2 linked regions of the Homo sapiens genome follow. The protein of the gene in region 2 purifies or fractionates together with the protein of the main gene of each other region. This does not show direct contact. Each region holds a gene or a part of one and is shown on either strand. Other genes may lie near its edges. The genes, in order: MATK and CD36.

Region 1 (3,279 bases), on a different chromosome or scaffold from region 2:
ACATGGGGCCTGGCCATGAATGGGGGAGGCAGGAGGAGGAGGGTGGCCTCCCCAGGCCATCCCTAAATGGGGCTGCTGCCACACATGCAGACCCTCCTGGGGCTCCCATCATGGGGGCTCCCATAGGGATATGGATGGCTGGGGCCTGAGAAAGGGCTGTGGTGGGAGGGGAGACTTGGACCTTGAGGGCTGTTGGCAGCCTCCCAAGATCCTTTAAGCCTGGGACCCCATGGGTTGGGAAAGGGTGCCCACCACTGAATACCACATGCCCTGGGGGACTGCAGTGGGGAACCCGTGGGTAATGGCAAGTGGGTCCCCTGCCCAGAATCCCCCAGGGAACGGTGTCCCCACAGTGGCCAGCAGGCAGGTGCCAGCTGGGCAGATCCTCCATGGGCCAAGATGGGGAGGCCCCCGTGTGCAGGCATGTGGCCACAGGAGGCAGGGGCTTGGGGCCGGTGGGTGCCCAAGACTCGGCCAAGGATCAGTGGGGTCCCAATTAATTGATCCCATCATGTGGGCTGCAGTGGGTTCCACAGAGTAGGAAGGTGACCACTGGGGCTGGGGCACACAGGGCATCTAGGGGGGGTGGACCTCTAAGGGAGGACCCAGGATGCCTGGCGCCTGGGGGTGTCCGAGAGCAGATCACCAAAGGTGGCCCCCGGGGAAGAGGGCACGGGGACACAGAGACACACAGGCGCCTAGAGTCCTTAGAATCCGTCTTTATCGGGCGATCATCCTTCGCAGGTCTGGGGTGTCCACGGGCCGCCCAGAGCCCCCTACGTGGGCCAGCCCCTGCTGTGGGCACCAGGAGGATGACTTGCCCGCCTGGACCCTCCTTGGGCCTGGTCAGTGCCCCCACGCCGCACTCTCCACTCTCTCGGTCCTCTGGGGCCAAGGGCCCCACCGGGTGGGGTCAGGGCTCCTGGCTTCGGGGCGAGGTGGAGCCGTCGGCGTCCTGCCCTGAGACGGAGGCTGGGGCACCTGCACTGCGTAGCTCCCGGGCCAGCTTCTCGGCCAGTTTGCGGAAGGGTGGCCGGCGGGCGGGCTCTGCCTCCCAGCAGCTGCTCATGAGGACGTGCACGGGGCCTGGACAGCCCTCGGGGGGTTCCATGCGGTACCCCTTCTCCACGGCCTCCGACACCTCTTTCAGTGACTGCGGACAGCAGGCGTGGGCAGGGGTCAGGGCCACAGCCTCTGGACCTGCCCGGAACCCAGTGCCTCCCTGGGACCCCCGCTCACCATTTTAGGGTACGGAGCCCGTCCATATGAGAAGACCTCCCAGAGCAGCACCCCAAAACTCCAGACATCCGACTTGCTGGTGAACTTCTGTGGGGCCCGAGACGGGGGTGAGGAGGGACCCCTCAGGTTTTCTGCTCCAGCCCCTGCTTCCTCCAGGAAGCCCTCCTGGGTTGACCCTCACTCTCTGGTCTTCTCCTAATTGAGTCCTCCCCCAACGCCGCCCGCAGTTGAGTCTAGCTCAGCCTTAGTGCATGAAGGAAGCCTGGTTATTCTTCCCTTCAGTCCTGAGCCCACGCCTTTTTCAGAGCTGGAGAAACTGAGGCCCAGAGGGGGGCTACGAGGAACAATTATGGGCCAAGAGCTTCCTGGGGAGGCATAGCCATTGCCCTTGGAGTTTCAGAGAGGCCAAGGGACATACCCAGGGTCATACAGCAGAGCTGGGGGGACCCCAAAGCCCCAGGGGTATGTGAAGGCAGGGCTCACCCCGTGTTTGAGAGCCTCGGGCGCCGTCCACTTGACGGGCAGCCGGCTTGAGTCTAGCCCCTTCCGCTCGGCTTTGGCCAGGCCAAAGTCGCTGACCTTGGCCACCAGGTCCTCTGAGACCAGGATGTTGCGGGCGGCCAGGTCGCGGTGCACAAGCTTCTTGCTCTCCAGGTACTCCATGCCCTCGGCCACGTGCCTGGGGGTAGTAGGGGGCAGTGGGGGCTCAGGTGCCAGGATGCCCACATTCAGGGCTCAGAAAGCTCGGGGTGCCTGGGGCCACAAGCTCACAAAGCCTCCCTGCCCCGTGCCTCAGTTTCCCCTTGATGGATCTTGGAATCTGCGCCCCGACGACCCCAGTGCCGCAGCACCCTGAGAGTCCCACTTACAGAGAAAACTGCAGGAGCTGAGCGGTGTTCACGAGGGCTCGACCCCGGGTCCGCAGAAAGTTCACCAGGTTGCCCTGTTGGGGGTGGGAGATGGCCGCGGGATGTTGGGGCTGCTCCGCTGCGTGGGCCCCCTCCCCGCCTGGGCCCCGCCCCACCTTGCTCACGTGCTCCATGACAATGTACAGCCCCTGGTGCAGGATCACGCCCAGGAGACGCACCAGGTTCTCGTGTTGCATCTTCCTGGGGGCGGTGGGGTGGGCGTGAGGGCAGGGCTGGGACCCCCCCCGTCCCACGGTCCCCAGCCCCACCCTGGGACTCACGTCATGACGGCCGTCTCGTCCAGGAAGGCCTGGGCTGTCACATCACACTTGATATTCTTCACGGCCACCTTTTGCCCCAGGTACTCACCCTGCAGGACAGCTGGGGGGTGGGGGTGGGGAACGGGGTGAGATCAGGACCCCCAACAAACAGGGACAGAGAGACAGACGGACAGGCCCGCTCACACCGGTGCCCATGTAACATTCACACAGCTGCGGGTCCCCAGACCTTGAAACACAGACCCCATGCTCCTCACCCCTGCCGCCCTTGCAAGCTCCAGACCCAAGATCAGAGAACCATCTGGCTCTGGCGCGGTGGCTCACGCCTGTAATCCCAGCACTTTGGGAGGCTGAGGCAGGCGGATCACCTGAGGTCAGGAGTTCAAGACCAGCCCGACTAACATGGAGAAACCCTGTCTCTAATGAAAATACAAAACTAGCCAGGTGTGGTGGCACATGCCTGTAATCCCAGCTACTCGGGAGGCTGAGGCAGGAGAATCACTTGAACCCGGGAGGCAGAGGTTGCAGTGAGCCAAGATTGTGCCATTGCACTCCAGCCTGGGTGACAGAGCGAAACTCCATCTCAAAAAAAACCCCACAAAAAACAAAAACAAAGAGAGAACCATCTAAGCCAGGGGTCTGTGAACCCCCACCCCCTCGGGGCCAAATCTACCTATCACCTCTTTTTGCAAGACCCTTCAGCTCAAAATGTTTTTTGCATTTTTATTTTTAATTAATTAATTATTTATTTGAGACGGAGTCTTGCTCTGTCGCCCAGGCTGGAGTGCAGTGGCGCCATCTCTGCTCACTGCAAGCTCTGCCTCCCAGGTCACGCCATTCTCCTGCCTCAGCCT
Region 2 (3,457 bases):
CCCCCTCATCTCAGTATGTTTATGTCCTTCTGTTAATACATCAAACTAATACCAGCAACAGGTCAAATAAAACTCTTACAGCTAGTCAAACTTCAGTGACTTAAATCAGGGCTTTTCCAAAATTTCGAGTGTCTATGAATTTCTTAAAGATCCTGTTAAACTGTGGATTCTGATTCAGTGGGTCTGAGGTAGAACCAGAGATTCTGCATTTTTAACAAGTTCCCAGGTGATGTTGAGGCTGTTTGTCTAAGATTCATGTAATTAAAGGAAAATTTTAAAATATTTATATTTATCCTATGTCACAGCCCCCTTCATGAGTATGCAGAATGAAACGTTTTGCAATGTGTAGATTGTACTACTAGCATCTGGGAACAGTTGGAAAAAGGAAATAGGAGTGATATGTAAATAAGTCATGAAAGGATAATAGCTCATATAAAACTATAGTAACAATATCAAACAATATGGAAGTCAACTACATTCAAAAATAAAAATAAGCAAAATCATTTTTCTAATAACAAAAGTTTTTATTTTCACAAATATTTTAAAATGCAGCTACCTTTGAGCCACAAAAGGAAAAAGCAGTATTCCTTTTATGTATTTGATACAAATATTAAACATAACTCAGTTTTAGTTCATTAGCTCAGCTCAGTGAAAATAGCTCAGGAAAAAAAAAGTCATAGGTAATGCTATTGGTATATGCAGGAAACCAGAAGCGACGACATTGAGTTCAAAATCCATTTAGAATTGTAGACAGGCCACAAGGGGCAGGTGAAGAGAGCAGCCACAGAGTCACTAATACATTGGACTTCAAACAGAAAAACTGAAATGTCAGTTGGTACACACCTAAAACAAACTCCAACTAGAAAGATAATTATGTAGCTCAGACATTGATAACAGGTTAAGAAATTTGTACGTGCATACTGTTTTTTTTTTTTGAGATGGAATCTCGCTCTGTCACCAGGCTGGAGTGCAGTGACGCGATCTCAGTTCACTGCAACCTCTGCTTCCCAGGCTCAAGAGATTCAGTCTCCCGAGCAGCTGGGACTACAGGCATGGGCCACCACACCCCGCTCATTTTTGTATTTTTAGTAGAGATGAGGTTTCACCATGTTGGCCAGGATGGTCTTGATCTCCTGACCTCGTGATCCACCTGCCTCCCAAAGTGCTGGGATTACAGGCATGAGCCACCATGCCTGGCCATGTATACACATCTTAATACAAATATTTTCAGAGATAACCATTGCGTGATAGCTATTTTTTTTCTTGAAATGATACCCTCCTTCACCCTTTTCTGTCAGAACTGAAAGCTACATAGCTTCTTCTATTTCTTCATGCACTTGTTAGAAGCAATATGCATTAACCTATTTTCCGATGCTGTTGATTCTCTAATCTGTTAATCCATTTGCAGACGCTATTGATTTTCAAACTTAAGTTATGAATACCTGCTATAATTCTGTGGTTAATAACCAGCTTTGGAAAGAAAATGTGCTTCTATCAAAGGGTACAATTTTTCTATGACTAAAACATATAAATTCATCCATGAGCAATTGCAAGTGTCCAAACATTTACCCTTTCTGAACAACATTAACTTCGCCAGGGCAAAACAAAGTCACACATGTAACATATTCCCCAAGTTGCCCCACTCCCACCACAGTGCATATGTGCACACACACACACACACACACACACACACACATCCAAAGCCCAGATTTCATGTAAAAAAAATCTCCCCTTAAGTAATTATTTTTCCTACTGCATATTTTTAATCTCGTTGTCTTTGTATATGAATTGTCTTTCCTCTTATATTCCTTTTACAGAATTTGAGAAATGAAACACTGAGGAATGATAAAGATTATACATGTATTCAAACAATATTAAAGACATATAGGTCAAAACCTTTTCTGATATCTAAATGCTATGAGATCATCCCTGTATTAAGATCTGAGTCATGATTAGTCATAATATACAGGTCAATATGTATATTCTCATCCAATTATCTTTAGAAGTTTCTACATTATATAACTCAGCCCTACATGCCTCAATGATTAAAAAACTTTCCTTTATATTAGATGGACATGTCCACAAATATCCTAATGCAAATAGAATAAACCTTGTATTATCAGAAGAACATGTCTACAATGTTATCTTACATATTAATATCTTGGACAGATACTTCTTTTATCTTCCCAGTTAAAAGGAAAGGCACTAAGTATGCTTTAAGCACCTTCAGAGATGCAAAAGATCTTTCCAAACAGGTAGATTCTTGGTTTGTGGCTTTTCTGTAGTAATGCTCAACATTTACTCTGGCGGCTATCATAAGGAGGAGGCTAAAAGTTATTTTCGATTTTAGTATCCAAACAGGCCAGTTACTATTCCTTTGTCCTGTATCCTTCTGTGGGTAAAACACAAGCTAGAATTTGGTTTATCTTCCCTTTCTATGCTGGAGCTTTTTAGGAGAACTAATGCTCTCAGAATAAGTGAACCCCTGCTCAAGAAACAGAGTTACCTATTAATGTGTCTCCTTATGAAAAAGGAAAAACCTTTGCAATTGTCCTACTGCTGTAAAGGATGAAACCAAATGTCTTTTTGTTCTTCATCCAATTAGCTTAAAAAATTAGCCTAGAACAAAGTGGTAGAAATTTAGAAAGCATATTTCAGCAAGGACTATGGATTTATAAAGAAATGTGGATTCAGATAAAATATACTTCAGAGAGAAAATTAGGATAAACATTTTATGACACAAGAGGAACTAGAAAAAGCACAGGAATTTAAGGAAGAACATATTTTAATGGTTGAAACCTGTCTTTATGAGGCGATTATGACAGCAAAAAATATTATAATGAATAACAATGCATAGTCTACGCTTTGTAATATTTCATACAATAATTCCTTTATCATTTACATCTCTTAATGCTAGAAAAGCATTCTGAAGATGCCAAGCGTAAGTTGCAACTGAGTAAAAAAAAAAAAGCAAAATTTACTCAATTTCCAGAAGAGGTGCAGAACAGAGAATGAAGGTCCTTAAAATATAAACCGCTAGTGTGCTAAAATGATGTCCATTTGCAGGATCAGTGACAAAATATTTAAGCCCATAAAGAAAAGAGTTATACCTGCTGTATGAAGGTATTCATAGAGAAATATGAGTCATAAGCCAATTATTTATAAATGTCTTTCAAAATATTTGGTGCACATGAAATGCAGTATACTGATGGTCCTGGAGACTGTTGCAGTTGAATAGGGCAGCTACTGGGATGATGGTGTTTCCCCCGGATGAGGATGACAGGAATGCAGGGCCTAGGATTTGTTGAGCATGTACACTCTTCTTCTGAATTGGCCACCCAGAAACCAATTATTGAATCAGAACAACACAAATTGGTTTGTGCTTGAGCCAGGTCTGTAGAAACGGAAATCAATTCAGTTGTGGAAATGATGAATTTTAAAAGCTGCTGGGTTTTTT

What was found.
Region 1: the proteins of CD36 (region 2) and MATK purify together in Homo sapiens (affinity purification with western blotting, with the first as the bait; one study listed by BioGRID). This does not show direct contact.

What each region holds. Positions count from the first base shown.
Region 1 is NC_000019.10:3,777,270-3,780,548, forward strand, and holds the end of MATK (megakaryocyte-associated tyrosine-protein kinase), read right to left. Parts: intron 2,529-3,279; coding exon 2,429-2,528; intron 2,349-2,428; coding exon 2,264-2,348; intron 2,183-2,263; coding exon 2,109-2,182; intron 1,919-2,108; coding exon 1,723-1,918; intron 1,327-1,722; coding exon 1,240-1,326; intron 1,154-1,239; coding exon 914-1,153; 3' UTR 704-913; downstream 1-703.
Region 2 is NC_000007.14:80,676,321-80,679,777, reverse strand, and holds the end of CD36 (platelet glycoprotein 4), read right to left. Parts: exon of another isoform or gene 3,395-3,457; 3' UTR 504-3,394; downstream 1-503.